Linked DNA regions of Homo sapiens. The protein of the gene in region 1 purifies or fractionates together with the protein of each later gene. This does not show direct contact. Each region holds a gene or a part of one and is shown in the gene's direction. Other genes may lie near its edges.

Evidence for each region.
Region 2: the proteins of TMEM168 (region 1) and GTF2IRD1 purify together in Homo sapiens (affinity purification with mass spectrometry; one large-scale study listed by BioGRID and IntAct). This does not show direct contact.

What each region holds. Positions count from the first base shown.
Region 1 is NC_000007.14:112,773,091-112,776,909, reverse strand, and holds part of TMEM168 (transmembrane protein 168), read left to right. Parts: intron 1-1,591; coding exon 1,592-1,734; intron 1,735-3,819. UniProt on the Homo sapiens protein: Plays a key role in maintaining the cardiac electrical stability by modulating cell surface expression of SCN5A. May play a role in the modulation of anxiety behavior by regulating GABAergic neuronal system in the nucleus accumbens.
Region 2 is NC_000007.14:74,554,785-74,558,603, forward strand, and holds part of GTF2IRD1 (general transcription factor II-I repeat domain-containing protein 1), read left to right. Parts: intron 1-389; coding exon 390-439; intron 440-608; coding exon of another isoform or gene 609-653; coding exon 654-710; intron 711-2,854; coding exon 2,855-2,938; intron 2,939-3,819. UniProt on the Homo sapiens protein: May be a transcription regulator involved in cell-cycle progression and skeletal muscle differentiation. May repress GTF2I transcriptional functions, by preventing its nuclear residency, or by inhibiting its transcriptional activation.

The sequences.
Region 1 (3,819 bases):
TAAGCAATTTAAATACCAATAATGGGATCCACTAATTAAAGTTTTATATGTATCATAGGAATGCCATTTGGTCTTTACAAGTGATTTAGAGTAATGTAAGCTTAAATTAAAATGTTGATAGATTATGTATCCCATTTTGGTAAAAAAAAAAAACATACACATGAATATGTATTTGTGAAAAATACATTGCATGAAGTCTGGGAATATTTCAGAGTAGCTGTGCGTATAGATGATGGTATTTGGAATGATTTTAATCACATATCTTTTTTACTTATTTGTATTTTCTAGTGTTTTTAAATGGAGCATGTACTGTGTTATTTATGTCATTGACAAAATAGGATGTACCAAAATAGGGCAGTATATTCATTTTTCTATTGCAGGAATTAATTTTTTTATTAAATTTTGATCAAGTGAACCACCCCTTAGTGTTAAAAGTATGTGTTCATGCACCTAGGCATATAGTATGTGCAGTAGCAATACCGGAAGAATGTAATAGTTTAATATTCTAAAGAAATGTTCAAGTGACTATCCATTTTCTTTTCACTTAAATGAGTCTTAATTTTTTCTGCTTTTTCATTGCAGTTAATACCTGATTGCCTCCTCCTTATTTCTTCTGCCTGTCTACTTTCCATTCTGCTTTTACAATGCTTATATGTCCTTAATATTTTCTTCTGTTAAATTTTGATTGCACATCTAGAGAGTTCAGTGCTTTATAAGGTAAACTATATCATATAAACGGAATTCGTTTTTATAGCTTTAGGGTCTTAAATTTCCTTAAGAACTTATACAGAAAGAAAGTAATAGAGAAAGAATACAGAAAGCATATAGAAAAAAGTAATAGTTTAATATTCTAAAGGTATGTTCAAGTGACTATCCATTTTCTTTTCACTTAAATGAGTATTTTTTCTGCTTTTTCATTGCAATTAATACCTGATTGCCTCCTGCTTATTTCTTCTGCCTGTCTACTTTCCATTCTGCTTTTACAATGCTTACGTGTCCTCAATATTTTCTTCTGTTAAAATTTTGAATTTGCACATCTAGAGAGTTCAGTGCTTTATAAGGTAAACTATACCATATAAACGGAATTAGTTTTTATGGCTTTAGGGTCTTAAATTTCCTTAAGAATTTACTTTCATAATTTCATGGGGAAAAAATGACCCCTTTCTAAAGCACTCTTTTTGATAAAGTAAATAAATCTGTTATTTGAAAAATGACATAGGCATGTGGGTTTTAACAAGATATTTGTTTTCTGGCATTTTCTCTGTTATATCAAAGAGTGGTTTTGGTTTGTTTTGTTTTTTTTTTTTTTCTCGTCTGGATAGGATGTTATTTGACAATTCTTTTTTAAAAATGATGTGCCGTGTTTTGCCACAACTTCCAAAAAACTAAGAGATAAATTTAGGATTTATTGCACTAGTTAGCTCATCCATGTATACGTGTCTGCTTTAACTGAAAATTGTTTTTAGATCATTAATTGTTCCTTTTATCCTTTTTGAAAGTAGAAGCTAAAAAATGTGAATCAATGTGCATGCATGTAAATATATACACATATGTACATGTACTATGTAAACATGTTTTGGATTTCTTTTAGCCAACAAATGGAATTTTCTTGAGCATGTTTCTAATCGTTTTGCCATTGGAATCCATGGCTCATGGGCTCTTCCATGAATTGGGTAACTGTTTAGGAGGAACATCTGTTGGATATGCTATTGTGATTCCCACCAACTTCTGCAGGTACAGTAATCTAGTATAGTTAGTGATAACTATTCACTTCATAACATTTTCTTAATATTTATATGAATAAAATATAGCTCCTTTTCAAAACTGTTTTCAAAATATAACTTGTGCATTTCTTCCAAATTTTTAACAAACTTTATTCCAAGTGATAATATCTTCAGAGTTAAATTGAAATATTTTGATAAATATGATAAGCTTATATTTTAGCTAGAAACCAGAAAATATTCATGAATAACTTTTCTAAGGAAAGATCTTACCCTAAAGGGAATATTTTGTTAAGAAAGTGTCCTCTGGCTGGTCGTGGTGGCTCACACCTGTAATCCCAGCACTTTAGGAGGCCGAGGCGGGCGGATCACCTGAGGTCAGGAGTTCGAGACCAGCCTGGCCAACATGGTGAAACCCCATCTCTACTGAAAATACAAAAATTAGCCAGGTGTGGTGGCAGGTACCTGCAATCCCAGCTACTCAGGAGGCTGAGGCAGGAGAGTCACTTGAACCTGGGAGGCGGAGGTTGCAGTGAGCTGAGATAGGGCCATTGCTCTCCAGCCTGGGGGATAAGAGCAAGACTTCGTCTCAAAAAAAAAAAAGGAAAAAAGCAAAAGAAAGTGTCCTCTGAAGCAACATAGTGAAATATAGTAAAACGTGCTCTGGGCCTGAGAGGCTGGAGGTCTAGTTCTTTGTTACCTTTGGTACACTATAACTACTCTGAACCTTATTATCTGTCTTTGCCTAAAATGTATATAGTGATAACTCTTCTGTTCATCTGACAGGAATGGTATGAAGCACTAAAAAAAAAAAAAAAAAAAAAAAAAATGTAAAAACACTCTGCACACTGAAAAATGCCATACAAATACTAGGAATTCAGAGGATTGGCAGTGAAGTTTAATAAATGTTTATTGCAGTTTTATTCCAAAATAACTTTTACCCACAAAGGTGGTGACATCTGTATAAATCTGTAAATGTTGCTACATTTTGATTTTTATTTTATAGCTAACTACCTTTAAAATAATTCTTTGCCATAAATGAATTCTGATGACAGTTTTCATCACACTTTCCCTGGGGGAGAGGAGAGTGGAAGTAAAGTTTTTTCCCAATTTCAAGTATTTGACATAAAAATCTCCAAATAGACTATTTGTAGGAAATATTTTCCTTCGTTAAAGACTTAATACAAAGTTGAAGGTTTAAGAACTGAAGGAAACAGATTTGGAAATGTCACATAAAGTGAGAAATGACAACCTTGTAGAAAGAATGTGTGGAAATAGTAATATGCACAGTTAGATATTTATTCCATTGTAATTTTTTTAATGTATTCCTTACTCTTTTGTGACTGTAATGAAAAAAAGTTAGTAGAATAGTACTGATGATATATGAAGCAAAATCTAACGTTTTCAAAAATCCCGATAGAAATCCCTTTTCTGGATAGGAATGATGATTTTTTCTTTCTCAATATTAATGGTATTTTGCTAGTTATAAGACTTGCTTTATCATCTTTGTACTAGAGTACCATTTTATATTTGTTCTAGGAGTAAATCTAAGTCTTCAACTAGTGTCCAGTGGTATAAAGCAATGGACCTAAATTTTAATAACTTTTTAAATGCCTATTAATAGATAATTTCTTCTATTATTTATGTACCTTAAGTTAATAAAATTTGAACACAATTTTATTGACTATTTTTCAATACAGAAGTAAATATATAATTAAAATATTGCTTTTTTATTTTGTGTTATAATATTTTTAAAGAAGTTTTTTTAATAGTCCCCACCCAGATGTTCTTGAAACAGTGTAATCCTGCTTTTAAAAAACCTTGTCCAATATTTGTCATGTAAGAAAATACGAATAAGGAACAAAGAGTAATACTATCTACATTTGGAGACATTATCCCAGCTTTTAATTTGATTATTGTTTTAATGATAGTAAATATAATATTTAGAAACCAGGTTTTGATTTTCTAAGCTTAATTCTCAGTACTATAGGAATTTTAGAAAGGGTGATTTTTTACAAAAATCCTGCCACTTAGCAGCAACTATATTATAACTGATTCTTAGATAATCAGTTACAAATGACAGATGAGAATGTGATAT
Region 2 (3,819 bases), about 38 Mb from region 1:
TCCTCGGCCTCCCAAAATGCTGGGATTACAGGCGTGAGCTACTGCACCTGACCTTGTTTCTACACTTTAAACCAGCTCCACGGGAGGCCACCTGAGGCCACCTGCTCCAATCCCAGGCAGTGACAATCGTGCAATGTCCCTGGAGCAGGAGTGAGATATCAGATGGACCTGTTCAGGACTGGGGGGGGTCTCACTCCCAGCTGGATCCTTCAAGCCCAGCGCAGCCCCCCAGATTCCACATGTGGGGCGGCAGGGACTCCAGGCCTGAACTATGCATAGCCAGAAGGGTCCATTGCAGGGCTGTGTAGACTGAGGCCCAGAGAGGAGGGCTGAGCAGTCCCAGAGATGCTTGGAGGGACCTCTGTGATAGCCTCGCTTGTGTTTTCCAGGCCCGAGCTGCTCACTGAGGGAGTCAAAGAGCCCATCATGGATAGTCAAGGTACCCAGCGCGGGGTCGGGAGCCATGGTGTGGGCGGGCAAGGGAGGGCCCCAGGCCTCTGCCACCAGCCCCTCCTCCTGCTGCCTCTGTCCTGCTCCCATCCTGGCCCTGGCATTCTCCCCACACCCCCACATTGGGTTTCCCCTAACGATGCCATCTTGGGTCCCAGGAACTGCCTCCTCACTTGGCTTCTCTCCCCCTGCCCTGCCCCCAGAGAGGGATTCCGGGGACCCTCTGGTGGACGAGAGCCTGAAGAGACAGGGCTTTCAAGGTAAGGTTGAGCTCACGGGGAGGTCTGTTGTCCCAGCACCAGGACATTGACCTGGTTTGGGTTTGGAGGGCCAGGCTGGAAGTGGGGAGGAGCTGGCCCCCAACTTCAGGGCCTAAGGGACCAGGCAAGCCAGGTTGGCAGCCCAGGCCCGGCTGTACCCTGCCAGCTCTGTGTTAGAGACTCCAGGGGAGAGGGGGTGCCTACAGGTGGACGGTCGGGGGAGCCCAGGAGCCTGCCTGCCCCCTCCCTGCCCCACCCCCCAGAGGTAGCTGACACGCCCACTCCTTTTTCAGCAATCAGCTGTGGTCTTAGTGCTTTGAAATCAGAATAGGAGCCAGACGCGGCACCTCACGCCTGTAATCTCAGCACTTGGGAAGGTCAAGGTGGGAGGATCGCTTGAGGCTGGGAGCTCGAGACAAGCCTGGACAACATAGAACCCGTCTCTATGTCTATTTTTAAGAAAAGAAATCAGAGGCCGAGTGCAGTGGCTCACGCCTGTAATCCCAGCACTTTGGGCGGCCGAGGCAGGTGGATCACTTGAGGCCAGGAGTTCAAGACCAGCCTGGCCAACATGGTGAAACCCCGTGTCTACCAAAAAAATACAAGAATTAGTTGGGCGAGGTGGCGTGCACCTGTGATCCCAGCTACTAGGGAGGCTAAGGCGGGAGAATCGCTTGAACCTGGGAGGCGGAGATTGCAGTGAGCCGAGATCATGCCACTGCACTCCAGCCTGGGTGACAGAGCAAGACCCTGTCTCAAAAAAAAAAGAAAGAGAGAGAGAGAGAGAGATGGTGGTCTGGGATCCCTCCAGCACATGCTGGCACTTGTCTTTGTTTGTTTGTTTGGATGGAGTTTTACTCTTGTTGCCCAGGCTGGAGTGCAATGGCGTGATCTCAGCCCACTGCAACCTCCGCTTCCCGGGTTCAAGCAATTCTCCTGCCTCAGGCTCCCAAGTAGCTGGGATTATAGGCACGTGCCACCACACCCGGCTAATTTTTGTATTTTTTAGTAGAGACGGGGTTTCACCATGTTGGACAGGCTGGTCTCGAGCTCCTGACCTCAGATGATCTGCCCACCTCAGCCTCCCAAAGTGTTGGGATTACAGGCATGAACCACTGCACCCAGCTTTTTTTTTTTTTTTTTTTTTGAGACAGAGTCTTGCTCTGTCACCCAGGCTGGAGTGCAGTGGTGCGATCTTGGCTCACTACAACCTCCACCTCCCAGGTTCAAGGGGTTCTCTTGCCTCAGCCTCCCAAGTAGCTGGGATTACAGGTACGCACCACCATGCCTGGCTAATTTTTGTATTTTTAGTAGAGATAGGGTTTCACCACATTGGCCAGGCTGGTTTCCAACTCCTGCCCTCAGGTGATCCTCCTGCCTCAGCTTCCCAAAATGCTGGGGTTACAGGCATGAGCCGCCGCGCCCGGTCACACTTGGGCGTTTTTAATGAACACTTTCTGGGTGAGGGTGTCTTGGTGGCTCATGCCTGTAATCCCAGCACTTTTGGAGGCTGAGGCAGGCAGATCACTTGAGCTTGGGGGTTCGAGGCCAGCCTGGGCAACATGGCGAAACCCCATCTCTACCAAAAACACAAAAAAGAAATTAGCCAGGTGCGGTGGTGCACGCCTGTGGTCCCAGCTACTCAGAAGGCTGAAGCAGGAGAATCGCCTGAGCCTGGGAGGTGGAGGTTCCATTGGGAGCCGCCAGGCCCATCCCCTGTGTCTGTGGGGACTGCCCATCCTCCTCCATCTGCTAGATCAGCTGGGCTTCCATTCCCTCGCTTGTCTCCAGCCCCCTAGTGACTTCATGAAGCCCCCGCCCCCTGCCTGCCAGCCCAGGGCACAGGACTCCGTACTCTATGGTGTCCCTCCCCTCCGGGGCTTATTTATTGGTTTGGTGGTTTTCAAATGTCATCAATTAACTTAATTTCCAACTCATCACTGTTGTGGCAACAGTGCATGTCCTTCTGAAAAAAAGACATCTCCATCAACATGTCGGTGCTGAAGGACCTGAGGGGCCCACTCCAAAGATCCTTTAATTGCCGGAGAAGGAGTTCCCCATAATTAGAAAATCATCTTCCTTAAAAGTCACCAAGTGCTTTTTCACTCAACAGCCCAAACCCATAATCGTTTTGCGCTTTGCAGAAAATTATGACGCGAGGCTCTCACGGATCGACATCGCCAACACACTAAGGGAGCAGGTCCAGGACCTTTTCAATAAGAAATACGGTAAGCAGTGCAGAACCCCCGGGGAGGGACACGCAGCTGCTGTGCACAGAGAAGTGGGAGGCTTCCCAGTTCCAGCCGAGGGCATTTCTGGGGAAACAATTCACCCCTTTACATGTATTTCTTGAGCATATACTACGTGCCAGGCACTGTCTCAGGCACTGGGGATATTGCTGTGAATAAAACAGACACAGTCCCTGTACTCATGAGCCTTGCAGACCAATGAGGTGAGATACACTTTCAAGAACTACACACAGAATTTAATAGACAAGGGCCCGGCACAGTGGCTCCTGCCTGTAATCCCAGCACTTTTGGAGGCTGAGGCAGGTGGATCACTTGAGCTCAGGAGTTCGAGGCCAGCCTGGGCAACATGGCAAAACCCCATCTCTACCAAAAACACAAAAAAGAAATTAGCCAGGTGCAGTGGTGCACACCTGTGGTCCCAGCTACTCAGGAAGCTGAAGCAGGAGAATCGCTTGAGCCTGCGAGGGGGAGGTTGCAGTGAGCTGAGATCGCGCCATTGCATTCCAGCCTAGGCAACAAAAGCGAAACTCCGTCTCAAAAAAAAAAAAAAAAAAATGGAGCATATGACATGGGAGCATATTGGTGTGGCTTTTTCTTTCGTTTCTTTTTTTTTTTTTTTTTTTTTTTTTTTTTTGAGACAGGGTCTCACTCTGTCACCCATGCTGGAGTACAGTGGCGTGATCATGGTTCACTACAGCCTCAAACTCCTGGGCTCAAGCAATCCTCCTGCCTCAGCCTCCCAAGTGGCTGGAACTACACCCCACTGGGCACTACCATGCCCAACTAGTTTTTAGAAATTTTTAGTAAAGACAGGGTCTTGCTGTGTTGCCCAGGCTGATCTCGAACTCTTAGACTTAAGA